7 linked regions of the Homo sapiens genome follow. The protein of the gene in region 1 purifies or fractionates together with the protein of each later gene. This does not show direct contact. Each region holds a gene or a part of one and is shown in the gene's direction. Other genes may lie near its edges.

Evidence for each region.
Region 2: the proteins of NCKAP1 (region 1) and NHSL1 purify together in Homo sapiens (affinity purification with mass spectrometry; 2 studies listed by BioGRID and IntAct, with this or other methods). This does not show direct contact.
Region 3: the proteins of NCKAP1 (region 1) and ABL2 purify together in Homo sapiens (affinity purification with mass spectrometry; 2 studies listed by BioGRID and IntAct, with this or other methods). This does not show direct contact.
Region 4: the proteins of NCKAP1 (region 1) and CAMK2D purify together in Homo sapiens (co-immunoprecipitation; one large-scale study listed by IntAct). This does not show direct contact.
Region 5: the proteins of NCKAP1 (region 1) and NHSL2 purify together in Homo sapiens (affinity purification with mass spectrometry; 3 studies listed by BioGRID and IntAct, with this or other methods). This does not show direct contact.
Region 6: the proteins of NCKAP1 (region 1) and PCDH10 purify together in Homo sapiens (pull-down; one large-scale study listed by IntAct). This does not show direct contact.
Region 7: the proteins of NCKAP1 (region 1) and NHS purify together in Homo sapiens (affinity purification with mass spectrometry; 2 studies listed by BioGRID and IntAct, with this or other methods). This does not show direct contact.

What each region holds. Positions count from the first base shown.
Region 1 is NC_000002.12:182,923,458-182,927,514, reverse strand, and holds part of NCKAP1 (nck-associated protein 1), read left to right. Parts: intron 1-609; coding exon 610-699; intron 700-1,696; coding exon 1,697-1,813; 3' UTR 1,814-4,057. UniProt on the Homo sapiens protein: Part of the WAVE complex that regulates lamellipodia formation. The WAVE complex regulates actin filament reorganization via its interaction with the Arp2/3 complex. Actin remodeling activity is regulated by RAC1.
Region 2 is NC_000006.12:138,429,558-138,433,614, reverse strand, and holds part of NHSL1 (NHS-like protein 1), read left to right. Parts: coding exon 1-3,222; intron 3,223-3,771; coding exon 3,772-3,904; intron 3,905-4,057.
Region 3 is NC_000001.11:179,110,980-179,115,036, reverse strand, and holds part of ABL2 (tyrosine-protein kinase ABL2), read left to right. Parts: intron 1-6; coding exon 7-159; intron 160-2,638; coding exon 2,639-2,728; intron 2,729-4,057. UniProt on the Homo sapiens protein: Non-receptor tyrosine-protein kinase that plays an ABL1-overlapping role in key processes linked to cell growth and survival such as cytoskeleton remodeling in response to extracellular stimuli, cell motility and adhesion and receptor endocytosis.
Region 4 is NC_000004.12:113,517,099-113,521,155, reverse strand, and holds part of CAMK2D (calcium/calmodulin-dependent protein kinase type II subunit delta), read left to right. Parts: intron 1-3,498; coding exon 3,499-3,593; intron 3,594-4,057. UniProt on the Homo sapiens protein: Calcium/calmodulin-dependent protein kinase involved in the regulation of Ca(2+) homeostatis and excitation-contraction coupling (ECC) in heart by targeting ion channels, transporters and accessory proteins involved in Ca(2+) influx into the myocyte, Ca(2+) release from the sarcoplasmic reticulum (SR), SR Ca(2+) uptake and Na(+) and K(+) channel transport.
Region 5 is NC_000023.11:72,144,480-72,148,536, forward strand, and holds part of NHSL2 (NHS-like protein 2), read left to right. Parts: 3' UTR 1-4,057.
Region 6 is NC_000004.12:133,162,600-133,166,656, forward strand, and holds part of PCDH10 (protocadherin-10 isoform 1 precursor), read left to right. Parts: intron 1-377; coding exon 378-683; intron 684-4,057.
Region 7 is NC_000023.11:17,373,569-17,378,411, forward strand, and holds the start of NHS (actin remodeling regulator NHS), read left to right. Parts: upstream 1-1,631; 5' UTR 1,632-2,189; coding exon 2,190-2,754; intron 2,755-4,843. UniProt on the Homo sapiens protein: May function in cell morphology by maintaining the integrity of the circumferential actin ring and controlling lamellipod formation. Involved in the regulation eye, tooth, brain and craniofacial development.

The sequences.
Region 1 (4,057 bases):
ACGAAAGATATACCATGGCATACTGAACTCTAGAACATTTACTTCTTTTTCAGTTATAAATCCTGTCAGCTTTTTTAAAAAATAATTTTTAAATTACAAATGCAAATATAGTACTAACTTGAGGAGAAAATAACTTCTATTTCAAGGAAAACACTATTAAAAATTTTAAGTGTTTCTTTCCATTTGCAAATAATTCCTTCACTCAGGGTTTAATGTCTTAATCTTACAGTGTTTCTGTGAAGTCAAATCCAGTGTGAAACTGTCTTCTTCCTTGGGAACTAAGAAATATAGTCAGTATAGATAATGGGATGGGATAAGAGAAAATAATTTGAATCATTTTAAAAAGCAGACTTGTTCTGAAAAAATCAGTTTTAAAGACCAATAAGAATATTTGATTACATTTATTATGTTAGTGTCTCTTTGTGCCTTAATTACTCTCTAAATTACTGCTTGAATGTAGGCTATCTAAGCTCATCTTATTTAATTGCTCATTATTTTATATTTAGCACTGAATGATTGAAATGTGTTGGAAGTTGAAACATACCTAAAATAAGTAACCGATGAACCTTTTATTAACAAACTCACTTTATGTGTATGTATACTTTTAAGCTTGCATCCTCCAGTCTACTGAAAATTGGCCAGGAGACAGATAAAACTACAACAAGAAATAGAGAATCTGTTTATTTACTGCTAGATATGGTAAGTCTCATTTTAATTTTTACTAACAATAAAAAAGTTCCAGTCGTTCCTGAGAATCTTTTCTTGGCATCTTAGTCATTGAATACTTTTTTTGATCCCTTTTGTTCACTTCACGTAAGCCACACCTTTCTAAAATTTGCAGAGAAGACTGACATCACTCATATTTTATCATTTCGGTAATATCAGAAGATAACAATCAAAGGTTAGCATTAACTGTGGGTATTCTTTTATGAACAGTTTTTCAACCTGTTGGAAAACACTCAGGCCTTGTATTTTTCTAGTGTATTGGTGTCACCTCTCTTCCAGTTTTCTGAGTTTTCTACATTCTAACTCTATTCTGCCCATTTCTCGTAATTTTCTGTAATTCTCTGTGCCTAGTCACTTCCCTCTCTGCAGTATCTGTGAACCAGCTCTTGCTTGTTTCTACCACGTGGCTCTTTCCCCACTTAGAGTTATTTTCCTTACCTGCAGAAATTGGATTTATCCTAATGACTTAGCACATCCCACAGCTCAAATCTTTTTCCAGATAGTCTTTCTTGATTACTTTGGCCTACATTAATCTTTCTTCTGTTTTGAATTCTTACAGAATTTACAGCTTTCCATTTCATTATAGTCGGTCTTATGTTTGGTTTTGCTTCCTAGCTTAGTCTTTGATTGCCAGGTAGAGTTGATAGTACAAAAAAAAAATATTTTTGTATTGTCTTTTATTTCTAGTATATCAGTGAGGAAAATGAAAGTGCTCAATATATTCCTGTTGATTAAATAAATTTAATTGAAAAGTAGCTCTTTTTAAACAGTTTGATATACATTCACTGTGGCACATTTACATTTTAGATTAAGTAAAAGGAAAATAATATGTGTCTATTGCTAATAAGAACAATATAGAAGTTATGCCTTACTGGTTGTCAATAAATGTTCCCATTATAAATAACTTATGATTTTTGTTTATAAACAAGTTATAAATAACTTGTTTTGATGGATTTTTTGAATTTTACAGATTGTACAAGAATCTCCATTCCTTACAATGGATCTTTTGGAATCTTGTTTTCCTTATGTCTTGCTGAGAAATGCATACCATGCTGTCTACAAACAAAGTGTTACATCTTCTGCATAAAATTACCTACTTAATCAAGATAAGCACGCATTTTTGTTGCCTTGGTTTTACCTGTAGACTGTGGAACTATTTTACCTTAAGACCTGAAAAAGTTTTGTGGATTATAAATTTCTTTCATACGGTTGTATTTTCTGATCATTGGTTTCTTAATATGGTTGTACTACAGTATACTTGGTTGATTTAGGTTGCACATTCACTGAATTCACTGAGATTATTCCTATAATTTTAAAGTATCATTTATTTGAAAAACATACATTATCAACATGTTTTTGATATTTGATAATGAAAAAAATCTTTGCTTGTTTATTTCTGAAAAAGAACTGTATTTAGTGATTATTTTAGATAGTGATATTATAGTATTCATCTGTGTGTAAATTATTTCATATAGGGAAGAGTTCTGATCTGTACCTATGGTTCTTATTGAAAACAACATTGGATGTGCATTTCTGTGATGTTATGAATACATTTCTACTTTATTTTGAAACATTTGCCAAACTAAATACTGTAACACTGTATAACATTTAAAAATGTTAAAGAACTGCTTAGTATTAGAAGCAGATCATTTCCCAAAATTCTAAGAGCAGCAGCATATGTTGTTGCTTGTATAAAGCCTAGCGATAATTTTTAGACTAACTTCCATGGTGCCCTGTTGGCATTAGCACTACCATTGTACCCTGCTGTATAATAAACAATCTTAGACATTTATCAACTGTTGATACAAATGTTAGTCCCTAACCACTTTTTATATATGTTTTAAATTTTTGAAATTCAAGTGTACCTGCCATAACATAAAATAAACACTAGACTGTATCACACTTCGATTGATTTCTTTAAGATCCTTGGATATTCGTTCAATAATAATAAAGTTTTTGTTTAAACTTAGTTTGAAATATAAAAAATAATGGTTTAGGAATGTCTAAGTACAGCATTCGATACCAGGTCAGCTATTATATGATTTGTTTAAATGTTTTAAAAAACATTTTATTGAAAAAAATACCAAAATTAGAAAATAAAATTACACAATACTTCTTAAAAATTAAGAACTTAAAGAAAACTTGTATGCTGTCAACTTGCTCATTTTATCTGTAACCAAATAGAGTTATTTAAAAGAATAGGGAAAAAAAATTGAGTGATCATGGGACTAGTGAGAATGTTGAGAACTGCTGCATTAGTCAGTAATGAATGGGAAAGACATAAAAGGGCCTATTGCTTAATAGTTGGCATGGAGGGCAAAGCAGCTCATTTAGTTTGAAAACTAACCCAATGTTTTGCTCTTTGATTGGCATTGTTGAGGCTGTTTCTCAGCAGCTTTGTATATGAATATCATAAAGAGCTTCTGTTCACAGCTTCTTATGTATACACTGGTAACTTGTGTTAAGATAAAAGAAGGCTGCTGTGAACTCAGTTATAATGTTTTTCTTTCTTCAAACATAGAGAGTAGAATGAAATTGAAGTACTATGAGATTATGCTATTATTTTGTGTATGATTTGTCCAGCCTATATTTAAAGTAGGGAGTAGTTGTCACTATCTGTCGAAAAATTGTACTTGTTCCATAAAGATTTTTTAAAAAGGGAAATTTTAAAATGGCATAGTTCAGACCTGAAATAGTCTGATTTACACAGTGAGCAGTCAAAACTAAGATTTAATGCCGTTTGTTTTGAAATATTAGGATCTTAGAGAGGTAATAACTTTGTTGGCAGTGATCTCTGGAGAGGTAAAGTAGGAATTTGGATATGTACACTTTGGAATCATATGTGAAAGGGCATAAGGATGAAAATAAGGCATTCTCTACCACTGCTAGGCTGAGAAAAAAATCGCTCCTCATAGTCACCTGAAGTTTTTGTCCAAATTTTTTCTCATACAGCAAAGGCGGGGGAGGAGGCGTGGCAAAGGTAACTTGGAGGAAAAAGTTAAAAGTAAATTGACAACTACTATTTTTAATATCTTGTTTGTTTTATTTTCTTCTAAACTTACACAACAACATACTATTTTTGTTGTTTTCTCTACATTAATGTGATCATACCATACATACTGGCCTGTAATCTGCTTATTTCACTCAGTAGTAGAAAAAATGTCTTTAATATTCTTTTTAATACCTTTATAGATACCATAACTAATTTAACAATTTCATGGCCAGGCGTAGTGGCACACGCCTATTTCAGCACTTTGGGAGGCCAAGGCGGATGGATCACTTGAGGTCAGGAGTTCAACACCAGCCTGGCCAACATGGCAAAACCCTGACA
Region 2 (4,057 bases), on another chromosome or scaffold:
TAGGAAGGTTCAATAGCTGTCGGTCTGCTGGGCAGCGCTCAGAAACCAGGGACTCCAGCTGTCAGACGGAGGATGTGAAGGTCGTACCACCTTCCATGAGGAGAATCAGGGCACAGAAGGGGCAAGGCATTGCTGCCCAGATGGGCCACTTCTCAGGTTCCTCTGGCAACATGTCTGTGCTGAGCGATTCTGCAGGGATCGTATTCCCTTCCCGCCTTGACAGTGATGCTGGCTTCCATAGTCTTCCGCGTTCTGGAGCAAGGGCAAACATTCAGTCCCTTGAGCCGAGGCTGGGTGCCCTCGGCCCTGCAGGAGACATGAATGGCACTTTCCTCTACCAGAGAGGTCACCCACAAGCAGATGAAAACTTAGGCCATTTAGGAGGTGCCTCAGGGACTGGAACACTTTTGAGACCCAAATCCCAGGAGTTGAGACACTTCGAGAGTGAAAATATAATGAGCCCAGCGTGTGTGGTTTCTCCTCATGCAACCTACTCCACCAGCATCATCCCAAATGCCACACTGTCTTCCTCTTCCGAGGTCATCGCTATTCCCACTGCTCAGAGTGCGGGACAGCGGGAAAGTAAAAGTTCTGGCTCATCACATGCAAGGATAAAATCCAGAGACCACCTCATCTCCAGGCATGCTGTGAAAGGTGATCCTCAGTCTCCCGGTCGCCACTGGAATGAGGGCCATGCCACCATTCTTTCACAGGACTTAGACCCTCATTCCCCTGGTGAACCCGCACTGTTGTCCCTCTGTGACTCAGCCGTCCCTCTAAATGCTCCAGCAAATAGGGAGAATGGGTCCCAAGCTATGCCGTATAATTGTAGAAACAACCTGGCCTTCCCAGCCCACCCCCAAGATGTGGATGGCAAGAGTGAATCTAGTTATTCAGGGGGCGGAGGGCACAGCAGCTCGGAGCCCTGGGAATACAAATCCTCAGGTAATGGAAGGGCATCCCCCCTGAAGCCGCATTTAGCAACTCCTGGCTATTCCACTCCCACAAGTAACATGAGCAGCTGCAGTTTGGACCAAACGTCCAACAAAGAGGATGCTGGGTCGCTGTATTCTGAGGACCACGATGGCTACTGTGCATCTGTGCACACTGACTCTGGACATGGATCTGGGAATCTGTGCAATAGCAGTGATGGCTTTGGGAACCCCAGGCACAGCGTGATCAATGTTTTTGTTGGAAGAGCTCAGAAAAACCAAGGGGACCGGTCCAATTACCAGGATAAATCCCTATCAAGAAACATCTCTTTGAAGAAAGCAAAGAAGCCTCCCCTGCCACCCTCCCGGACAGACTCCCTCCGCAGGATTCCCAAGAAGAGCAGCCAGTGCAACGGGCAGGTGCTCAACGAGAGCCTGATCGCCACACTCCAGCACTCGCTGCAGCTGAGCCTCCCAGGCAAGAGTGGCAGCTCGCCCTCCCAGAGCCCCTGCAGTGACTTGGAAGAGCCCTGGCTGCCCCGCTCCCGGAGCCAGAGCACAGTTAGTGCTGGCAGCAGCATGACTTCCGCCACCACCCCCAATGTCTACTCCCTGTGCGGGGCCACGCCATCGCAGAGTGACACAAGCAGCGTCAAGTCAGAGTACACGGACCCCTGGGGTTATTACATTGACTACACGGGCATGCAGGAAGATCCGGGGAACCCGGCAGGGGGCTGTTCAACCAGCAGTGGGGTGCCCACTGGGAACGGGCCAGTCCGCCATGTCCAAGAAGGGTCCAGAGCCACAATGCCCCAAGTGCCCGGTGGTTCAGTCAAACCAAAGATCATGTCACCAGAGAAGTCACACAGAGTCATTTCTCCATCCAGTGGGTATTCCAGCCAGTCGAATACACCCACAGCACTCACCCCTGTGCCTGTGTTTTTAAAATCAGTGTCACCAGCAAACGGGAAGGGGAAGCCCAAGCCCAAGGTACCAGAAAGGAAGTCCTCTCTGATATCTTCAGTATCCATTTCCTCATCGTCCACTTCTCTTTCTTCTAGTACTTCTACTGAAGGAAGTGGCACTATGAAGAAGCTGGATCCAGCCGTGGGCTCTCCCCCGGCTCCTCCTCCTCCTCCTGTTCCCTCTCCTCCATTCCCTTGTCCTGCAGACAGGTCTCCTTTCCTTCCTCCCCCACCTCCTGTCACAGATTGCTCCCAGGGCTCTCCTCTGCCTCACTCTCCTGTGTTCCCCCCTCCGCCGCCAGAAGCTCTCATTCCTTTCTGCTCCCCACCTGATTGGTGCCTTTCTCCTCCCCGCCCTGCACTGAGCCCCATTCTTCCAGATTCACCTGTGTCCTTGCCATTGCCCCCACCTCTCTTACCTTCCTCGGAACCCCCACCTGCCCCACCTCTTGACCCCAAATTCATGAAAGACACCAGGCCGCCTTTCACAAATTCTGGCCAGCCAGAATCCTCCCGGGGATCCTTGAGGCCGCCTTCTACCAAGGAGGAGACCAGCAGGCCCCCCATGCCCCTGATAACCACGGAAGCATTGCAGATGGTGCAGTTGAGGCCCGTGAGAAAGAACTCAGGCGCTGAGGCGGCACAGTTGTCTGAACGAACAGCTCAGGAACAACGAACTCCAGTTGCTCCACAGTACCACTTAAAGCCATCTGCTTTCCTGAAATCCCGAAATAGCACAAATGAAATGGAGAGTGAAAGCCAGCCTGCCTCTGTGACAAGCTCGCTTCCGACGCCTGCCAAGAGCTCGAGTCAGGGTGACCATGGCAGTGCGGCTGAGCGTGGTGGCCCTGTGAGCCGCAGCCCTGGAGCTCCAAGCGCTGGGGAGGCAGAGGCTCGGCCCAGCCCCAGCACCACCCCACTCCCAGACTCTTCACCCAGCAGGAAGCCACCCCCCATTTCCAAGAAGCCCAAACTGTTCCTGGTGGTACCACCTCCGCAGAAAGATTTTGCAGTGGAGCCCGCAGAGAACGTGAGCGAAGCCCTCCGAGCTGTGCCCAGCCCCACGACGGGAGAGGAGGGCTCTGTGCACAGCAGGGAGGCAAAAGAGAGTTCTGCAGCCCAAGCTGGCTCTCATGCCACGCACCCTGGCACCTCGGTTCTTGAGGGAGGAGCTGCAGGATCCATGTCTCCCAGCAGAGTGGAAGCCAATGTCCCCATGGTTCAGCCTGATGTCTCACCAGCCCCCAAGCAGGAGGAGCCAGCCGAGAACAGTGCGGATACTGGGGGCGATGGGGAGAGCTGCCTATCTCAACAGGACGGAGCAGGTGAGTCTGGCTTCCTGGCTTCTCTCTCCTGTGCCCTCTGCCCATATGCAGCTGAACCAGATAGGGTTGTTGAATGCTCACACGTGGAAAGAACCCAGGTAGATCAGATTCCTGTTAAAGCTAGCAGTATGTAGGCTTCCTGTGTTAAAACACAGATTAAGTTACCAACTTTGCATTTTGTTATTATTTTTAAAATCTAGACCTAAAGGCATGGCAGAAAATAGGGGGATGGAGATGATCTGCAGCAGGCTGGGTATTAAATAGCAATGGGTAACACCTCCCTTCCGAAGAGCCGCGCAAAGAAACGTTGCAACAAAATTTAAGAGAGATGCCATGGGCGTTCCATACTTTAACAAAGAATGAGCTCTGGCTCTCAGGCTAGTGTCATTTCCTCCCTTCTTTGTAAACTATCAAACTACAGACCCACGGCATCTCCCTGTGGTTCTCACATTGTCGGGAATGGCAGGGAAGCAGCATATTTAGAAGCTTGGCTGAGGACTGAAATTCCAGTCACTTGTGCGTCTTGTATGCCTGCCTGCTCTTCTGTAGCTGGGGTGCCGGAGACCAACGCAGCCGGTTCATCCTCAGAGGCCTGTGACTTCCTCAAGGAAGACGGGAATGATGAGGTAATGACCCCCAGTCGACCCAGGACCACAGAAGACCTTTTTGCAGCTATTCACAGGTATTTCAAACTCCTTCCTCTGACTTTAATCTACTGTGTAATTCCTTCTTTCCAAGCAGCACCTCAATTTACTTTTCTTCCTTGAGGTTTCTTCTGTCACCCAATCATAACTCCTTAACTTTACTGTTGATTTTTTAGTGGGTTTCTACAGTT
Region 3 (4,057 bases), on another chromosome or scaffold:
ATGCAGCTTTTGGGGTATTGTTGTGGGAAATTGCTACCTATGGAATGTCACCATATCCAGGTATTGACCTGTCTCAGGTCTATGACCTACTAGAAAAAGGATATCGAATGGAACAGCCTGAGGGATGCCCCCCTAAGGTTTATGAACTTATGAGAGCATGTGAGTATTTTTGCATGTTTTAATTTTGAAGGCATAAGCTAGCAGTTCAGAATAGTTAACAAAATTAGAAACATTTCTCCTCTCAGTGTTGTTAGATTGAATCCAGCCTCATGACATTTAAAGAGTTTATCATTGATCAGCCAGTTGTCATATCATATACCATTGAATCTTATTGGAATCCTAAGCATAGTTGTTATGGCCCAAATATTGACCCAGTTTCTCAGAGACATTTGCATATTTAATAAGATAAGAAATTGAGTTTAGAGATTAAGGTGGGGAGGGCCGTTTTCAACTAGATAAAAATGATTGCTAAAGACTATGAAGAATGCATAAAAATAACCTCTGTGTAGATAAACAGAAGCATCCGATTGCTTGCAGATGAAAAAGTAGGAAAGTGAATAGTGGATTAAATTGCAGGGTTTTGTTTGTTTGTTTATTTGTGTTGTTGTTTTTCAAACACTCTTGCTTTGTTGCCCAGGCTGGAGTGCAGTGACGTGATTTCGGCTCAGTGACGTGATTTCGGCTCACTGAAACCTCTACCTCATGGGTTCAAGTGATTCTCATGCCTCAGCCCCTCAGTAGCTGGAACCACAGGCACGCACACCATGCCCAGCTAATTTTTTTTTTTTTGAGACGGACTCTCACTATGTTGCCCATGCTGGAGTGCAGTGGCACAATCTTTGCAACCTCCGTCCCCCAGGTTCAAGCGATTCTCCTGCCTCAGCCTCCCAAGTTGCTGGGATTACAGGCACCTGCCACCACGCCTGGCTAATTTTTGTATTTTTGGTAGAGATGGGGTTTTGGCATGTTGGCCAGGCTGGTCTTGAACTCCTAACCTCAAGTGATGCGCCCGCCTTAGCCTCCCAAAGTGCTGGGATTACAGGCATGAGCCACCACGCCCGGCCTAATTTTTGTATTTTTATTTATTTATTTATTTATTTTTTGAGACGGAGTCTCGCTCTGTCGCCCAGGCTGGAGTGCAGTGGCGCGATCTCGGCTCACTGCAAGCTCCACCTCTCGGGTTGATGCCATTCTCCTGCCTCAGCCTCCTGAGTAGCTGGGACTATAGGCGCCGGCCGCCACCACGCCCGGCTAATTTTTTTTGCATTTTTTAGTAGAGACGGGGTTTCACCGTGTTAGCCAGGATGGTCTCCATCTCCTGACCTCGTGATCCGCCTGCCTCGGCCTCCCAAAGTGCTGGGATTACAGGCTTGAGCCACAGCACCCGGCCTGTACTTTTAGTAGAGACAAGGTTTCACCATGTTGGCCAGGCTGGTCTCGAACTCCTGGTCTCAAGTGATCTGCCCGACTCAGTCTCCCAAAATGCTGGGATTACAGATGTGGGCCACCAGGCCTGGTCCTAATTGCAGTTGTGTTTGAACATAAGTCTGTGTTGTTTCCTCATTGAACATTGACGTTCTCTGTTGCACTTTGTCAAAAATGAACTCTGAGATCCTCCTTTTTGATATCCTTTTATATTTCTGAATGTATACAGTTGATTATATGGTTAGGCTGAGTTTGAAGACAGGTTTTACTTCTTTTATTTTCAAGTGGAAGAAAACTTGCCATTTTCTAAAACATCTCCTTGTTTCTCCTCATCCTTTTATTAGAGGGAATAGGAGCTGAGGCTAAATCGAAGCACCAGCCTTAGAAAGTGGGTTAATGGCCAGGTGCAGTGGCTCACACCTGTAATTCTAGCAGTTTGGGAGGCCGAAGTGAGCAGATTGCTTGAGCTCAGGAGTTCAAAAGCAACCTGAGCAATGTGGCAAAATCCCATCTACATAAAAAATACAGTAGCTTGAGATCGCTGTGTGTGCTCACTTTGGCTGGGTGCAGTGGCTCAAGCCTGTAATCCCAGCGCTTTGGGAGGCTGAGGCGGGTGGATCACCTGAGGTCAGGGGTTCGAGACCAGCATGGCCAACATGGCGAAACCCCTGTCTACTAAAAATACAAAAATTAGCCGGACGTGGTGGCGTGCGCCTGTAGCCCCAGCAAATCGTGAGGCTGAGGCTGGAGAATCACTTGAACCCAGGAGGCAGAGGTTGCAGTGAACCGAGATCGCGCCACTGCACTCCAGCCTGGGTGACAGAGTTAGATTCCGTCTCAAAAAAAAAAAAAAAATTAGCTGGGCGTGGTGTTGCACACCCATAGTCCCAGCTACTTGGGGAGCTGAGGCAGGAGGATTGTTTGAACCCAGGAGGTCAAGGCTGCAGTGAGTTGAGATCATGCCAGCTGCACTCCAGCCTGGGTGACAAAGCAAGACCCTGTCTCAAAGAAAAAGAAAAAAGGAATTTAGAAAGTGGGTTCATTATACCTCTGAGTCTAGAGCTGAGAAGTGGCTATGTTGCTATCATTGTGAACATGCTGTAACTGTACTTTAATAAGTGTGCATCATGATGCATAGAACTCATTATTAGATACACCACTGGATATTGAATTTCTGCAAGGAGTTTTTAATATTTTTTCTTCTGTTACATAGGCTGGAAGTGGAGCCCTGCCGATAGGCCCTCTTTTGCTGAAACACACCAAGCTTTTGAAACCATGTTCCATGACTCCAGCATTTCTGAAGGTGAGAATCTGTTGGATTTACTGTTGGTGACTAATTCTGGGTAGTGGTGGTGGTGGTGATAATGGTAATTACATTTCAAAAATGATCAACTTTTGTGGAGTTTGAGACTCTGTTTCAACTTTTAACTACAAGGACATTGCATCAGAGTATAGTTTATAATAGTGAGAAATTATGAACAACTTATATATCTAGTGGACTGTAAATTATTACAACCATATAGCTGAATATTTAAAATGATATTCATATATATACTTTTTTTTTTTTGAGATGGAGTCTCACTCTATCACCCAGGCTGGAGTGCAGTGGTGCGATGTCAGCTCACTGCAACCTCCACCTCCCAAGTTCAAGCAATTCTTGTGCCTCAGCCTCCTGAGTAGCTGGGATTGCAGGCACCTGCTACCACACCTGGCTAATTTTTGTTATTTTTAGTAGAGATGGGGTTTCGCCATGTTGGCCAGACTGCTCTCGAACTCTTAACCTTAAGTGATCCACCCACTTCAGCCTCCCAAAGTGCTGGGATTACATGTGTGAGCCACAGCGCCCGGCCTTCTTGGATATATTGACATGGAAAGTAGTTAAAGGTTAACTTTAACTTAGTAAACGAGGATATCCATATGTCCAATAACCATGTTTAACATTACTCATCATAGAGAAATACAAAATAAAACCACACTGAGATACCAATCCACAGCCTACCAAAAAGGCTAAAATTAAAATCAGGCTTGGCAGGCACAGCAGCTCACACCTGCAATCCCAGCACTTTGGGAGGCTGAGGTAGGTGGATCAGTTGGGGTCAGCAGTTGGAGACTAGCGTGGCCAACATGGTGAAACCCCGTCTCTACTAAAAATACAAAAACTAGCCAGGCGTGATGGCAGGCGCCTGTAATCCCAGCTACTTGGGAGGCTGAGGCAGGAGAATCACTTGAACCCGGGAGACGGAAGTTGCAGTGAGCTGAGATCGCACCTCTGCACTTTAGCCTGGGCAACAGAGCAAGACTCCCTGTCAAAAAAAAAAAAAAAAAAAAAAGACTGAGCACTGTGGTTCACACCTGTAATCCCAGCACTTTGGGAGGCTGAGGCGGGTGGATCACAAGTTCCGGAGTTCGAGACCAGCCTGGCCAACATGGTGAAACCCCATCTCTACTGAAAATACAAAGAATAGCTGGGTGTGGTGGCGGGCTCCTGTAATCCCAGCTATTTGGGAGGCTGAGACAGGAGAATCGTTTGAACATCGGAGGCAGAGGTTGCAGTGTGCTGAGATCACGCCATTGCACTCCAGCCTGGGCAACAGGGTGAGACTCCATCTGCAAAAAAAAAAAAAAAAAAAAG
Region 4 (4,057 bases), on another chromosome or scaffold:
ATAAATAAATAATAGCCTATCTTTCCTATATGAACTGTATCTTAGGCCAACCAAGTGGATAAGGAGCAAGATTTTCTTAGTCTAAAGAAAGCATGATATAATTAGAGTATCATCATTTTGTTTGTTTGTTTGTGAGTCTCACTCTGTTGCCCAGGCTGGAATGCAGTGATGTGATCATGGTTCACTGTGGCCTCGAACTCCTGGGCTCAAGTGATCTTCCCACCTCAGCCTCCCAAGTGGCTGGGACTAGCTGTGCATTCCACCACACCTGGCTAAATTTTTCTATTTTTGGAAGAGACAGGGTCTTGCTATGTTGGCTAGGCTAATCTTGAACTCCTGGGCTCAAGTGATCCTCCTACATCAGCCTCCCAAAGTGCTGGGATTATAGGTGTGAGCCACCATGCCCAGCCATCATTATTTTGCAACCCCAGTAAAATTATGTAGGCAGTAATCATAAAAGGCTGCTAGTGTCATGAGAGATACCCAACATTTGGAGGTCACATCATCACCCCTCAAGTGGTCTCGCAAAAAAAAGACTTCTTCATTGACTTTTAATGATTTTAGTACTTTAGGTATATGGGCAAAGAAAAAGAGCTAGTGATTTTTTCCTTTCTTTTTTCTCTGACATAGAAAAAAGGTAAAATTTAGGTTTATTAAAAAGATAAATTGGGCTTACTCATGAGGCAAGAACTCAATTAGAACAACAAACACTTTTATTTTATTTTATTTTATTTTTATTTTTGAGGCAGAGTCACAAGACTCTGTCACCTAGGCTGGTAGAATTCAGTGGCACGACCTTGGCTCACTGCAACCTCCACCTCCTGAGTTGAAGCGATTCTCCTGCCTCAGCCTCCCGAGTAGCTGAGACTAAAGGCATGTGCCACCATGCCCGGTTAATTTTTTTGTATTTTTAGTAGAGACAGGGTTTCACCATGTTGGCCAGGCTGGTCGTGATCACCTGACCTCAGGTGATTTGCCCGTTTTGGCCTCCCAAAGTGCTTGGATTACAGGTGTGAGCCACCACGCCCGGCCTAGAACAACAAACACTTTTAAAATAAGCATTTGTTTAGAGGACCTAGCTAAAGGAAAAAGTAGCTGCAAGGAACATTTAAGATAGGACCAAATGGACATCTTTGCTAGTATGTCAAGGTCTCTCAGTTAGACAACACAAAGTTTTAAATTTTATATTATCATTCCTACTAAAGTTCATAGATAAAGAAAAAGTGGCTGCAGGGAATGTTTAGAGCATCATTATGTCTGTCCTGCTTGTGGTTGAAACAGTTACTTAATCTCTCAGCCTGTTTCTTCATCTATAATATAATGCAGATAATAACAATATCTACCTCATAGCATTATACAAGGATTAAATGAGATAATGCATTAAAGCACACATAACTCTGAATAAATGTTATCTACAATAAAATTTATTAGTATTACATTATCCTTATGCCATGAGTCTCATACTTGTTCTATACATTCAGAAAATAGAACTACAAAATAGCATAACTCAGAAAGGTTTTAGATGCTTGTTTAATAATCAAGTTGAAGTAAACTTACAAAACGGTGTTTATTTAAATAGGCACTGACAATTTCACATCAGGCTAGTCAATAGCACCTATAATATGTTTTTTTTTTAAGTCTTTGGGCCTAAAAGTGTTTTTTTTAATCTTCACATTTATGCTATTATTTTATTTAAAGTACATGTTTTTGTAAACACTCCTCCATCAAACAGCTAAATTGTGGGCATCTATTACATATTGCCTGCTTTTCTCATGGAATGAGCCCTCTGTGAGCTTCCTCTTCCCAGAGAAGCACCACATCAACTGTCAACTGCAGACATAATTCATAAGGACAAACAGCCTATGTTGAGAATGCTAAATGTCTCAGTTGAGCCACTATTTCATAATTCTATAACAGCCTAATTCCAGATGTGTATTAGGAAAATGTTCATATTCAATGGAAACTATCACTATTACAAAGCAAATTTTCTTCTTAACCTCCTGGAACCTTATATAGCTGAGGGCTAAAACTACTCAGGTACAGCTTTTTTTCTACTTGCCTCCTGAGAACACAAAGAGAAACACTCATCATCATCATTACTATCATCATTTTCATTAGATGTATGGAAAAATTATTTTTATGTCATGAAGGTGAGGTACCAATATACTGTGGTTTTCTTCATGGTCTTTTTTTTTTCCTTAAGAATGTTGTTTAAAATTTTTTATCCTTGTATTGATTCACATGACTTAAAAAATCTGCTTATGAACTGTATCTTCCTGAAGCAGGCTATAAAATTCTAAGATGATTAAACCATTGCTTAAAAACCATTTCAGCTGCTACAGTGTCTATTGTATAAAGATGTCCAGACTGCTGGACAGGAGCAGGGATAGATCTCCTAGGTACAGAGACCAAGAGACCACCTTGGATAAGGGAAAAAATAAGTCTCAGGGTACACCTGGCAAAGTGTCACCTGTCTTACTCTTCTTCTCAGGTTTCCTAGGCTTAAGGAAACATAGCAAGAAAAAAGCAAACAGGAGAGGTCAGAGGAATGACTGCCTTCCTCCAGGATAATGAGCTAGGAAAGAAACCAAAGGCCTTAAGCAAGGCAATAAAATACGTGAAAAGTGGCAGGAGAGATATTTGATGACAGAGAAGACCACTGTATCAAAACAATCTCAGACATTTAGACTGCAGATATGATTTCAGGGAAATTTACAAACTGTGAATACAGAATTTTTTTAATTTTAAAAGTGAAATTAGATTTTGGTTAATTTATAAATAATTATGTTTGTGAAAAATTTTAGCAAATTTTATTACAGCCATGTGTTTATTGTTATTATTACTTTGAATTTTCTGTGGAATTTCTCCCTTCTCTCCCTTTTTCCTCTCCCATAATATATATTCTTCTGTAGTCTTGTTGGTTTAGTTGTTTGACTGAGAAGGCTTGAAGTATTTGAAGACTAAGATTACTGAAAAGAAAAGGGTTTTGTCTCTATGGGGTACCCACATTTGCAGGGACTATGGTTATTTAGAACGTGGATTTATAACCAGGACACCATCACTCAACAAAATGTCCCAATGACCATCAAAACAAGTATGAGGAAATAAAAAACATGCTTAGTTTTTAAACTTCAACCTCACAGTGACTAAAATCATAGTCTCTATATAGATAAGAATGCAGTAAGACCCTCTATAGACAAGAGTTCAGGGGGGCCAAAGAATGTTGCCCTAAATGAATGTTGCCCTGCCATGCCTCTTTAGAATTCTTTGATGCATGCATTGACTGACACATTGTCAGAGTTCTGGAGCATAGGAGGAGAAGCATTCACCCTCCAGAGACTGCTCTAGACTAGATCATAACACATCTTTCTGAAGTTTTCCTACAATCCAGTTTTCTCTGTTTTAACAACTACGGCTTAATATCATTGTGGATCAGCCACATTTAATTTACTGTTGTCTATATGACTTAAATTGTGTTAACATTATATTCTCCTCCAGGTGTCATTCTCTATATTCTACTTGTGGGGTATCCACCCTTCTGGGATGAAGACCAACACAGACTCTATCAGCAGATCAAGGCTGGAGCTTATGATGTATGTAATAACTATTTATATCACTTTAGATGAAGGTTTGTCTTTTGCCTGTTGACCAAGAGCCAGATCTTTTCATTTTTCTTTTAACCATAATTTTTACCACTTTCTCATATTATTTCCCTCTCTCTTAAGGAAAGGGAGAAAGAAATGCAGCATTTGTATCCAGTTTACGTTTCCTTTTAACTCACTGTCTCCTAAGATTGAAAGAAAAGCCATGTGAAGTCTCTGAGGAAGAACTTTGTCAAAATATTTGGACCTTAGTGCATTTTAAAAACATAAAAATTAAAATATTTCTGCTATAGAAATGATTATTGCCTGTTTAGTTGAATTATATTCTCAAATATCTATCACATAATTTTATATTATATACCAACAATATTTTGCTGTGATCACATATCAAATAGAACATTATCCCACTATACCAGTTTCTGGGTTTTGTTTTTTGTTTTTGTACTGTTTGGGAT
Region 5 (4,057 bases), on another chromosome or scaffold:
ATTACAGGAAGTAATTAACTGAAGGAACAGCATCATCAAAGGCTCAAGGATAATGGAAAGTAAGTGCATCTTGCCCCCCACCAGTCAATTCAGATCGTGGTTTGTGGTTGGTTTGGTTTTGTTTAAAGGAAGTCCGACTCTGTTCCAAAAACCAAGAACATATAAACTAAAAGGATCTATCCAAAATCTAAAAGGCAGTCTTGCCAGTTGCTATGGCCCATAATGCACACACACACACACACACACACACACACACACACACACACAAAAGGGCTACTTTTTGCCATTTAGGTTCTGTGTTTGACCAGCTTTCAATTAACCTTGCTGGGGGAGAGCATAAGAACCTGGGTAAATGGCATACTGAAAGAGCTTCAGAATAATCATTGCGACCCCTCCCTGCCCCCACCCCCCACGAAGCTTATAGGCACTAACTATTCTTGTCAGCTCAATTTTCTAAGCAGAGCAAGAGCAGTGATTCATTTGATTTTTGTATGCCTGATTTCTGGGAGGTTGGGGAGGAAGACAAAGCACTGAGCAAAGAAAACCTGCTGACCAATGATGGAAAGTTAATTGTCTACTGTCTTCAAGAGGCAAAAAGAACAGTTGAATGAAATTGTAGCCTGCTTCACAAAGAGAGTTCCCCAGCCCCTTCCTACTTCACCCCTCACCCAATAGATTCAATGGTCAACCTCCTGGAGGATGCAGTAAGGTTCCAGAGACAAGCAGATCTCAACTTTGATAGGTCGTATTGCCCAATGAGAAGCCACCTTTTAGCTCAACTGCCCACACTCCAGCTGGACAGAGCAGCTGAAAAACCACACTAAGTACTGAGAAAACTTGGGCCTCTCACAAGAGAAGCCCTAGGCCTAGGCCCTTTGTTGTTATAGTTCTGAATCTGAGACTTCTGGAAACAGGCCAGGCCCACCAACTCCCTTGCAACCAGCACTTCGACACTTAAAATAATAAAACAGCTAGGCTCAGTTGCTTTTGAAAGTACTAGAACTACTTGGTGTGAAGTTCTTAACCAAATTCCAAATTCCAGGGATTTTGCCCAAAATAAAATCAATTCATCCCTGGCCTCAGTTTATATATGAATGCCACATTTGTCTGCTCCAGACTTAGAATTCCAAAAAACAGACATTTTCCTCTGTAGTAAATGAAGGAGCGTTTGTGCTTTTGCTTAGCAAAAATGAAAGGACACCAGGGTCTCCTTGGGAACCATTATGACTGGTTGAACGTTAAAGCTGAGTATGGGACTCACATAGTATAGGCCTTGTTACTTCTGTGGACTTTTCTGGAAGTTTCTTGTTTACTACTTCTAATGGGTTTTGCCTCTCCCCTCACCTTGCTACCTCTGGAGGTTTTCCCAAAAGATTCTGAACCTGAATTCTCAGACACCTTGATGTTTGTCAGTTACCTTTAGTCTTGTTTTCCTCTACAATACTCTATATGCCTGGAATTTTTAGAATATCTTCTACATCATCACTGTGGCCCACGCAGTGGTGTTCCCATTAGCACAAGAGGATTTGGGGCAGAAATCATATGGTCAGAGAGAACATTTAAGACCGGAAGTATTCATTTAATTTTTTAAATTAATTTTTTGTAAAGATGGGGGTTTTGCTATGTTGCCCACGCTGGTCTTGAACTCCTGAGCTCAAGCGATCCTCTCGCCTTGGCCTCCCAAAGTGCTGGGATTAAAGGAGTAAGCCACTGCACCTGGCCTCATTTAATATTTTGCAACAGGTAGACGTCCCAAATAAACAACCAAACTGTAAAATTTCTACTAATCACTAATTAACAGAACACAAAGCATCTTCCCCACTCCTAACACTCAACCTCTCTCCTACCTTTGATTATCATAACTCCACTCTCTCTCCCACCCAGGCACTTACCACAATGTTTGCTGCCTTCTGCACCTACGCTGCTGAGACTGGAGAAGAGAGGCTGAAAGCCCCTCTCAGAAAGGCTTGCAGAGAACCCACCACTACTACAATTACTAGTATAAATAATAATGATAATAATTTTTGAAGGTGGAATAGAGAAGAGATTTGAGTGAAATGAAGTTGGCCCTAGGAGCTCAGCTTCCATTTCAAGTCGTCCCTATCCTCTTTTTTCCTCCCCATTCCAGTTAGTAGCAACAGATGGCTCTGCTAGCCTGACTTTGATCTAGTCACCATCCCCAGGAGCGGAGGTTAATTGTTAACCAAGGATGCTTTGCATTTGGTGGGTAGTCAGTACATGTTTTTGAGGGTAGTTATTCTTGGTACAATAGCAAGCTTTGCTGGTGTCTCCTCTCCTTATCCTGTACTACTTGGCCTGCCTCAGCTCCTGACTGGGCCTCCCCCACCAGCCCCAACTTATTCCTCAGCCCCAACTTATCCCTCAGCCCCAAATCCCATGAACTGCATCCCTAGCACAACAACTCACCCATAAAGGAAGTGAGACAACAGGAAGCAAAATAATTAATGTTAGCTTAATGACCACAAACTGACCAGTTGATCTGGATAAATTACCTTGAACGTGCAAAGACAGAGGAGATCCTACCAGGCTCTCCTAACAAGCACTGCACCTGACATCCAGTGTAACTATCTGGACAACACAGACCCGATTGCAGTCTCTCTGTACCTGTCAGTCTGAGCAGATCTGTCCACGCACCTGCCCTCTTCCTCATCAATGAACAAGTTGGGAAAAAGATGAGTTCATGCTCAGTGCTCTGTTCCTCACTCGTTCCACCTTCCATTATCAAGTCTGTGACACAATGGTGAGCTTTCGCTTTAATATGATTTGCTAGGGCCAGGACTAGGGTGAGGTGAGCGAGGCACCTAGGGCGTAAAATTCAAAGAGGTGCCCGCTCTCAGGGCCATGCAAGTGCCTTACCCTCGTCCCAGCCCTGTGATTTGCACTCTTTAAAGTAATATCAGTTTATCTTCTTCCTATGAACAAGTATAGTCCTTCTGATTTGGGGTCGGGGGTTAACTCCCTATCTCTTGTTGCACCAAATATTTTATTGCTACCTATTTTTCCATTGCTATAAGTCTTTGTGTGCCTATACATTAAAGAATCTTTAATAGTGTTAATATCGGAAAACATAGTTGATTTCTAAGTAATATGCTCCAGGTGGCAAGTTAACACCCATTTCAGCAGGGATGCTCCCAAGGCCAGCCCTTCAACAAAAGAGTGACTGAGTTGACGGTCTGTCACCAGGATCCTCCCTCTCCTCTTTCTGCTCCATTCTCCTAAACCTTGCTTCCCAGCACCAACTCTCTTCAGTGCCTCCTACTTCCTTCTCCTCCTAAGAAAAACCTGCTCTCAGGAAAGGGATAAATTCATTTACTTTGAGATTATAAGGCTTAATGCTACCTCTTTTGAGGGTCAGTTGCATTTTAACAAGGGAAAAGCCTTAAGCCAATGGAATGAAGTTCTACTTGCAGAATGTTAGGCATCAACTAGTTGTAGAAGTGTATTTTTCACCATGGAAAGGCCAAATTCCCTGACGCCTAACTCCAGAATATAGAAAATATCTTAATCGCCTGGAATCATTTGAGTTACTAGCTGATGGTCAATTAAATTGTCCTGATATCCAATGCTATTCAATATGGTTACTACCAAGGGACTCTCAGAAATGGCTACTAAAAGCCACTGAGAAGGCCTAGATCATTCATATTGTACATTGACATTTTTACATAAATGGAATTAATACTACTTACCATTTGAGTAAAGAACACAAGGAATTGAAGAGTCTGTGAAAATATGTCCTGTTTGTGAAAGGTGAAACTGTCCAATCCATGTCCAATCAATGTCAGTCGTCCAGTATTGGTGGTGATTATTAAACTTATTGGAGGTACAACTTTACCTCCAATAAGCTTACCTTTACAAGCTTCTGCTTTCCCTGCTTCATCTCTGTTATGGGCTATCAGTCCAGCTTGGTGTGAAAATGAGACTATATCTATACCACAGCCCCCAATCCTTTCAAAGGCTTTGCATGTATTTCAGCTACAAGTGACAAGGATATTAGGGATTTAAAAGGATAAGAGAGTGGGAAAGATGTATAAGGAAG
Region 6 (4,057 bases), on another chromosome or scaffold:
CTTGTTGTTTTATCTGTTATGAACTTCACAAGAGATTTTTTAAAAGATGTCTACCATTTTTATTCACCATTTCCCAGTTATTTAAATTGTTTAGAGCCAATATTTTGCCCAATACCCTAAGTAGTTTAGAAACATTTATCTCAGAGGCCTCTTTGCCAGAAGAGTCTTATCTTTTACATTTGCAGATCATTTTCCCTTTTTAAAGTGATGAACAAAAATGAGACAAAATAATATTTGGTTCCTGTCAGGATAAGCCAGGAAAAATTTGTTAAGACAACTTCACTTGTCACCCTTTATGCTACCTGTAATCTTACACTGCTAAGTAACTGGTCATGTTGGTGAAGACTACATCCGTAGTTTCTGTTTTCTGCTTACAGGTATGGATCTCTTCTCCAATTGCACTGAGGAATGTAAAGCTCTGGGCCACTCAGATCGGTGCTGGATGCCTTCTTTTGTCCCTTCTGATGGACGCCAGGCTGCTGATTATCGCAGCAATCTGCATGTTCCTGGCATGGACTCTGTTCCAGACACTGAGGTGTTTGAAACTCCAGAAGCCCAGCCTGGGGCAGAGCGGTCCTTTTCCACCTTTGGCAAAGAGAAGGCCCTTCACAGCACTCTGGAGAGGAAGGAGCTGGATGGACTGCTGACTAATACGCGAGCGCCTTACAAACCACCATATTTGAGTAAGTATTACACAAAGGGCTCTGTTAAAGTGTTCCCTTTGAGGAGATAAAGTTCAACATTCCACTCTTTTTGGTAAAAATGGAGTTCAGGTTTTTTTAAGAAATAAAGATAAAAGTGACTGGATGCTGGCAGCACTTTAGGGCAATATTCTTTATTTAAAATAATAGATTCCTCTAACATTGAGACATTAATAATTGCACTGAGCTCTTTCAAAATATAGGACTATATTCTCCAAATTGATTATTTTATATAATCATTGCAAACAATAAAAATGCTTTGAGATTCCATAATATATTTCCTTTGAGGATCTTGGTAATGAGAAATAGAAATATTTTTCTTTTAGTTAATGGATAAATATTACTGGCAATTCAATATCTTGGTCAAACTACATAAATAATGTTTGATAAAGATAAAACTCATAACAACTCAATCAAAAGATGACTTACATAGCAGATCCATCCTACGTAATGTTTTATTTCATCTACTACAAAAATAACTGTGGAACTTATAAGCTAGAACGAAAGATGAGACAGATTGTAGATATGTCATTTCTTTTATGACTGATGAAATTGAAAAGTAAAAGAGTTTTTAAAAACTTAAAGGAAAAAAACAGAGGAATATTTATTTTAGCCTTTATGAAGTATAACGTGAAAAGCAAAGATTGAATGCATTGAGGTTGTGGCTATTAACCTGGACATAGATAAAGCAAATAGACAAGTGTTATATGCTTAAAGGAATGGTCTTTTATTAGATGCATACATTGTAGTGACAACAATAGGTGGTGTTTTATGAAGGATTGTTTTCAGCTTTTCAAATTACTCAGAACCACAAATACCCCAGCATGATGTACCACTTTAGCACTTCAGAACCAAAAAATCATTTGTTTTGCTTTATTTTTTTAAAGTTATACAAAGAGAGAACAAATACTTAAAGACAGGAAATATTGAGATGTCTAAAATGCAATTTGGATGCTAATGTCTTAAGTTTAACTCACAAATCCACACATGCTAGTGAATTAAAATAGCCTAAAATCAAACTTTAATAAGTGAGGAACATGATGCGATCTTTGCCTCTGAAATTGAATTCTGGATTCAAAATTTTATTTATTATTAAAAGTAAAACTTTTCCAAATTTTAAACAGCATATTTAACTACTGTTTCACTTAAACTAAGAATGTACATTATAGAAATACATTATTAATCATTTCAAGGCAAAAAGTGAAGGGTATATGATTCAGATTAATAAAAATTTGCATTTCTAAATAAATACAAATATTTGCTTTTACCATATAATAACAGGTAAATCTACTTCAAATATAGTGGGAAAATCAACTTGCCCTCTTTTGCTCTTAGTGAGTACTAATCTTGGTGAAATTACACTTACACATAGACCTGGAATTTTTAACATTTACAGATGTCTTTTCTTTACTGACTGGATTTTTTTATTAATAAGACTAATGGAAACAATTTTTATTATTAAAATATTAATGCTGCATATATTTTAATGCAAATTTTTCTATTTCTTAAGAATCTGGTCTTTCATTTAGAAATCTGATTCAGGGATTATGAAATTTATTAACAGTTATGTGTGTTGCTAAAAATCAAAAGAATGCATCTATTATTTCACCAGGAAAATTTTAATTATTTGCTCATTTTATATATATATTCATATATATACACATATATTCATTATATACATATATTCATATATATACACATATATTCATATATATGTGTATATATATGCACTAACACATTCCAACATATATTCATATATATACACATATATATATACATACATATATTCATATATATATGAATATACATATGTTGGAATGAGTTAGTTTTTAATTGTAGTTTTTTTCCCTAATCTGTTTTAGCCAGTTCACACGGCTCAAAATTTAGGGTTTGGGTTGACGTGTGACCTGTGGTGGAAAATTTGCAGAAGAATAGCTATTTTGTTGTTTTCACTTCTGCTCTTCTTAGTTCTTCATACGACTTTAATCATGTCTAGACTGGTTTTTTTTTTTAATTTAACTTTTAGTATTTAATGTCATCTTAGAGTCATCCAATTATATTTAAAATTACACCATGACTCTGACTTAATAATCATAAAAAATTTATAGTTAGTCTGATAATACAAACTCTAAAACAAAACTATTCCTGACCATTTTGCCCCTCAAATTCATATGGTGATAGTTTTTGATACTTGTGTCCTTTTTCATTCAGAATAGAAATAGTGTCATCTTCTAAGTCTAAAGTAAGTCCCTTGCATAATTAAAAAAGCTAAAAATTGACACTACTTGCTTTTAATCAGAATGTTTGAATAATTATTAAAGTTGTAGAGTTTTTTTGCTAAATATGCAGTTTCATAATGAATATAATGTACATTTTGATGTTAGGAAAAATAGCAGTATATTTAGTTATGTTTTTGTAAAGCTCTAAAAAGCCTAATGAGACTGTCACTGTCATTTATACAATAATGACAAGGAAATGACGATATGCTTAAAAATACAAAAGAGATCAATGTCAGTACAAATAACTTTTGATTTCTATACCTCCGATTGCTAAAGTTAAAACTAAAAACTGCAAGAAAACAACTTTTACACAAAAATAGATGGATGCAAACATTAAATAATGTACTTCATGTTCTTAAAAATATGCTTACACTTACATTTCTTTTTATTTTAATGTATTAACAAAAGACCCATGAAGAGTATACATGATGTATTTAATAAAAGGAGACTTTTTAAAAATCAGGAATAATTTTGAACACATCATTCAATACTTGCTGAGTTATTCATGAGCACTTTCTGAGCTTGCTTTCTCTTATTTTTCCTATAATGTTGTAGTTTGCTAAGTTGATATGGAGCAAAGGGATACACTCAAAGATTGAGTAAATAAATTTAAACAGGTAGAACATGGCCATATATTCAGAAATGCCGTATTTAGATTTACCTTAAATGTTAATGAATTTCAGTTTTACTTTACCTTTAATTTTCATTAGCATAATTAAAAACACAAAAATACCATTTCATTTTTAATTAAAATTAATAATTGCCTACAGCACTTTAAATAATCATGTTAAAATGAAAGAAAATATTTTCTGGAGTTTTAAAATAACATTGCATTTTTATCATGAACATTTTAAGGATTTGTTTAGAATCAGACATCTTATTTTAAATGATTCAGTCTTTCAAATGGCACAGTAAGTTATGTGTAAAACCATCTGGATAATCTCCATAAATAAAAATATAAAATGAATATAAAGTCAAGAATGTAATTGACAAAAGTTATATTATTAGTATAATTTCAGAAAACCCTACTAGTTAAAACACTTTAATATTTTTGTAGTCATTCCTGCTTATGATTTT
Region 7 (4,843 bases), on another chromosome or scaffold:
TGTTGCCACAAGGCTTGCTAACCAGATGCCTTTAATATCCCTCATTGTTCTCCATGCTTCCATGTGTTTAGGGAGAAGTGTCTGGCTTGCCTACCCAGCAGAACTCATGTTCAGAATTTTGAACGTATTAAAAAGTCAAGCTCAATTTAAAAACAGCTAGCTCAACGCTTTTCAGATTTGTGAGATAAAAAACAAACCTTAAAAGACCTTGTTCCAAAATATTCTTTTCTTTCATTTTTTATTTGGAAACAAAACCAAATTTAAAGTTGCAAGAAATGTACAATGAACCCTGATATGCCCTTAACCTAGACTATTTTGAACATTTTGCCATATTTTGTTTTTTTCTCCCTTCATACATACACATCTTTATTATCATCATTCTTCTTCTTGTTGTTACTGAAACATTTATGTGTACTTTGCAGACATCATGGCCCTTTACCCCCAAAGCCTCAGCCTGGATCTTTTATGAACAAGGATATGTCCTTGCCGAAAATTTTGGTTTTTTTTTGTTTTTTTTTTTTTGTTTTGTAGAATAAGACAAGGGTCTGTTGAAGCCTTTAAAACCAAAGCGTGGGCCAGTCCAAAGTGCTGACTGTTGGAGCCTCCTCCCTCTCCCGCCTTTAGAGGGAGGAGAGGAGACACCACCGCAGGTCTGGAGGACTTTATTGTTGCCATAAAACATATTTTTTCCATGTTCTCTTTAGAAACACGAAAAGAGGCTGCATTCCCAAGATCTGGCTTGTGGCTTTAAAATAAAAAATATTTTTACAGTATACTTTTTGGAGGCATGAAAGCACGTGTTTTATTAACATTTCCCAAACTCTTTTTACTGACGGCATACAGCCTGCAGCCTGCTGCAATCGAAAATGCATGCCTTTTTAGAAATTATACCTTTCAGTTAACTGAAGGGGAAAACTTTCCCTTCTTCTGTAAATCATCATCTCTCTGATGGAGAACTTTAAAAATCCTGTGTATGATCAGCACAGTAGGGTGACGAGGAGGTAATGCCGTTTATCTCACCCAACGTGCAATGAGTTTCGTAAGCAGTTTTCTGGGGATTTTGCTCATTGGTGGTTTGGGTCTCATTCACGATATTCTATAGAGCCCGTGCCCAAAACAGGGGGCCACGTGATGCCTGGGAAGGGGTATAAACAGCACTCTGGCTGCTCTGGCCACATGGAGATGCGCCTACGCCCTTTGCCCTCCCCAGTTGTCTCCTTGCGTTCATAGAGCCCGGGGATCTCCAAGGAGCAGCCCAGTTTTCCCTGTAAGAACCCAAAGGTCTTGTACAGAGCTGGAATTCGGCGAAAAACTTGCTCCAACACGCCAAATCTGCCGCATCCTCAATACCCCACCCTCTTCCCTCTGCGCTTACTGCCCACACCCCTACTCCCAACTTGAGGACTCCCCGCCCCCACCACGCTGACAGTCTCAATTCCAACCCCTTGGATGTGAGGAAGTGTCTTTGCGCCTGAACGCGCCCAGCACGGCGAGGCCACCAGTGACTCCCAGCGGCCGCACAGGGCGCTGCGCCCCCCTCGCCCCGGCCTCCCCCGCCCTGCGTCCGCCCCGTCACCCCCGCGCGGCCTCCTGCGCCCGGGCTGGAGGCAGATTCCTCTCTCCGGGTTTTCAGAGCGCCTTTCCGAAACCTCCTCCCCGCCCAGCCAGGGAGAGAGATCCCGGGCGCAATCGCTCCCCGGAGCGGCCGAGGGGCGCGCGGGGAGAGGCCTGCGCCGGGGTACTTTCAAACTGAGGCGCGCGCACACACTCACACCCACCCACCCACTCACCCACACACACACAGACACACGCACGCCCATTTATATAGGCGGCGGCGACGGCAGTGGCCGGGGTGGCGACGGCGAGCACAGAAACGATGGAGTTGAGCCAGTCGACCCTGGTTGGAAGCAAGTGAGAAGAGACCAGGCGCACCCCTAAATTTCTGTGCGGAGCGCTTGTCATCCTCCCCAGGGAACGGTGCACCCAAAGGAGGACTGGCTGGACTGATTTGCTAGGGAGAGGGCGGGGAAGAGGAGGCAAGGTGAGCAGAGAAGCCCCCTGCGTATCCGGACTGCCAGATCGCGCTTTTGCCGGACTCCTGCCCCCTCCCTGCTCAGGTGGGCGCGCCCGGTCTCCAGCTCACAGGGGCGCTTGGAGGAGACCAGAAAGTCGCCGCCTGGCTGCGCGGGATGCCTTTCGCCAAGCGGATCGTGGAGCCGCAATGGCTGTGCAGGCAGCGGCGCCCTGCGCCCGGCCCAGCAGTGGACGCGAGCGGAGGCAGCGCTGAGCCGCCGCCGCCCTTGCAGCCGCCGGGCCGGAGGGACCTGGACGAGGTCGAGGCGCCAGGGCCAGAGGAGCCAGCCCGCGCCGTCCCTGCACCTTCAGGGCTGCCACCGCCGCCGCCGCCACTGCCCGCGCCGGCCGACCAGACTCAGCCGCCGCACGGAGAGGCGTCCGTGGCTGGCGAGGAGAGCACGGCGGGGATCCCGGAGGCGGCGCCCGCAGCCGGCGAGGCGTCCTCGGCGGCGGCGGCGGCGGCCGTGCTGCTCATGCTGGACCTATGCGCGGTCAGCAACGCCGCTCTGGCCCGTGTCCTCCGGCAGCTCTCGGACGTGGCCCGGCACGCTTGCAGCCTCTTCCAGGAGCTCGAGAGCGACATCCAGCTCACCCACCGCCGCGTCTGGGCGCTGCAGGGCAAGCTCGGCGGCGTGCAGCGCGTCCTCAGCACGCTTGACCCTAAGCAGGAGGCAGTGCGTGAGTACCCGCGCCGTCCGCCCGCCAGGCTATGGGTTTCTGCGCCGCACCCTCGCGCCCTCCCCAGCAGCGGCAATCCCAGCCCCGCGGCGCCGCTCCGGTTGCAGCTTGCACCTTACTACTCTCGCCTTCCCACCCTTCCCATCCCCTGGGACCCACCCCAATCCTCCTGGGGCTGAGTGGCTGGGCTGGACCCCGATTCAGTGATGCAGACGTGGACGGTGGAAAGTTAAAAGGGCGACCTCTGAAGTCGCAGGCAGCGTGGGCTGAGAAGGAGCAGAAAGGGAGCGTTTATGGGGAGCACAGGAGGCAGAGAGGGTCTGTCCTTCACCACCGGGGCTCGCCTTTCACGTCCTTCACGGGGCGTAGGGAGGAGGGTTGCAACTCCTGTGGTTTCCAGAAGCCCAGCCCTGAGCCCTGTAGCCCACACCATGCATGTTCAGGGTTGGGGGTTCCAGGAGTAGTGAGTGTTCTTTTGAGACTGCTGCAGCACCGCGGCTGTTTCGTCACTCGCTGTGACCTCAGGTGCTGCCCCGAGCTCCGAACTTGTGCCTTGCCCTCGTGTGCGACGTAGCGTGGCGCTGCTCGCCTCCTAGACTGAACTTCGTAGTGCTTCTGCCGAAAACCCTTGTGGCCCGGAGGGGCCGCGGGGAGGGTCAGGGAGAGATGAGGGTGGGAGTGTCAGGGGCCCCGGGGAGATGGAGGAGACCCCTGGGCATCTTTTCTGCTCTGAACAGCCCAGGGTTCCTACTAAATGGCTCTGTGCCATCTGCCCGCAGAGGATCCCACAGACTATCTTCCTCCTCCCCGGTGCACTGTCGCCCAAATTTACTGGCACGTGGACTTAGGTATGAACTAGTCTGCTAGGCGGGCTGCAGGGAAACGACGAGGAAGGAAGTCTGGGAGACCCCTGGGCGTCTTTGCTGTCCGTTGACTTCGCTTTTACGACACCCAAGGGCTCCCAATAAATAGTCATTCTATGTCATCTCCCTTCCAAGGGCGGTCCCCTTGGCTCCGGATCGTCCAAATCTGGCGACGGCAGAATCATTTAGGAACGACCCAGGAGGTAGACAGGGGCGCTGGGTTGGCGCGACGGTCCTTTGGCGCCTAGTCAGGCTGCGACGCTCGCGGCGAAGGTGATGTCAGCGGCTCTGACTTACGTAAGAAGCTTCCTAGGTTGCTGCCGCAGCTGCGCCGGTGCGCAGTGGCCTAGGAGCGCGCGGGGCGGAGGCGCTTTGGAGGCATCCTTCCCTGGGGATTTCCGGGCACCTCTGCCCCACAGCCCAGCTCAGCCTCCCAGCGGTCCCTGCCCGCCCGCGTGTTCTCTCCCTCTTCCCCTCCTCCTCCGAAAAACCCTTTGAACCCCGTCCCGGGAATTCACTGCTTTTCTGCAATAACAATAGTAATAAGCGTAATGAATAAATGATGTGCTCGATCGGTTTTCGCAGCTATAAAAGACCCGGAGTTGGGTTAATGACTGGTTGTTTAAAAGGGCAATTCCGGGGATGAGTTCTGGAAAGAATTAGGACTGCCGTAGGCCAAGTCGTATTTTACTTTTGGGACTTGAAATGAGCGCTTTAATCCTGCCTCCTTTTTACCCCAAACCACACAGCAGGGACAGGCCCTTCACTTTCAACAGCGCAGGTATCTGGGGAGTGCGGTTGTGGGAGTGGTGATTTCACTTCAAAAGAACTGGAGGGAAGTTTTGCAGACTGTTGAGTGGTGCATACATTTCCCGTGTGTGTGTGTGTGTGTGTGTGTGTGAGACACACCTCTCCTTAAGTTAGATTTCACGCGAATGAAACTCACTGCCAGAGCAGAATGTGCCCACTTCTTTCTCTCTTTAGATGCAGCAGTGGGCAGTTATGTACCTGGAACGTGTCAGAGTTCTTTCAAGTCCTTTTAACTGTTTGGGGTACAAACTAATAGTTAGTAGAGATAAGAGAGGATCTTGAGTGTGTGCATATAGTTGGTGAATATATACTCTATACATATTTGTACATGAATAATAAAGATGGGGCTGATTTCTACCTGGGATAGATTTAAAATCTCATATTATTTTAAATTTTATTTTCTAAAATGCTATCTC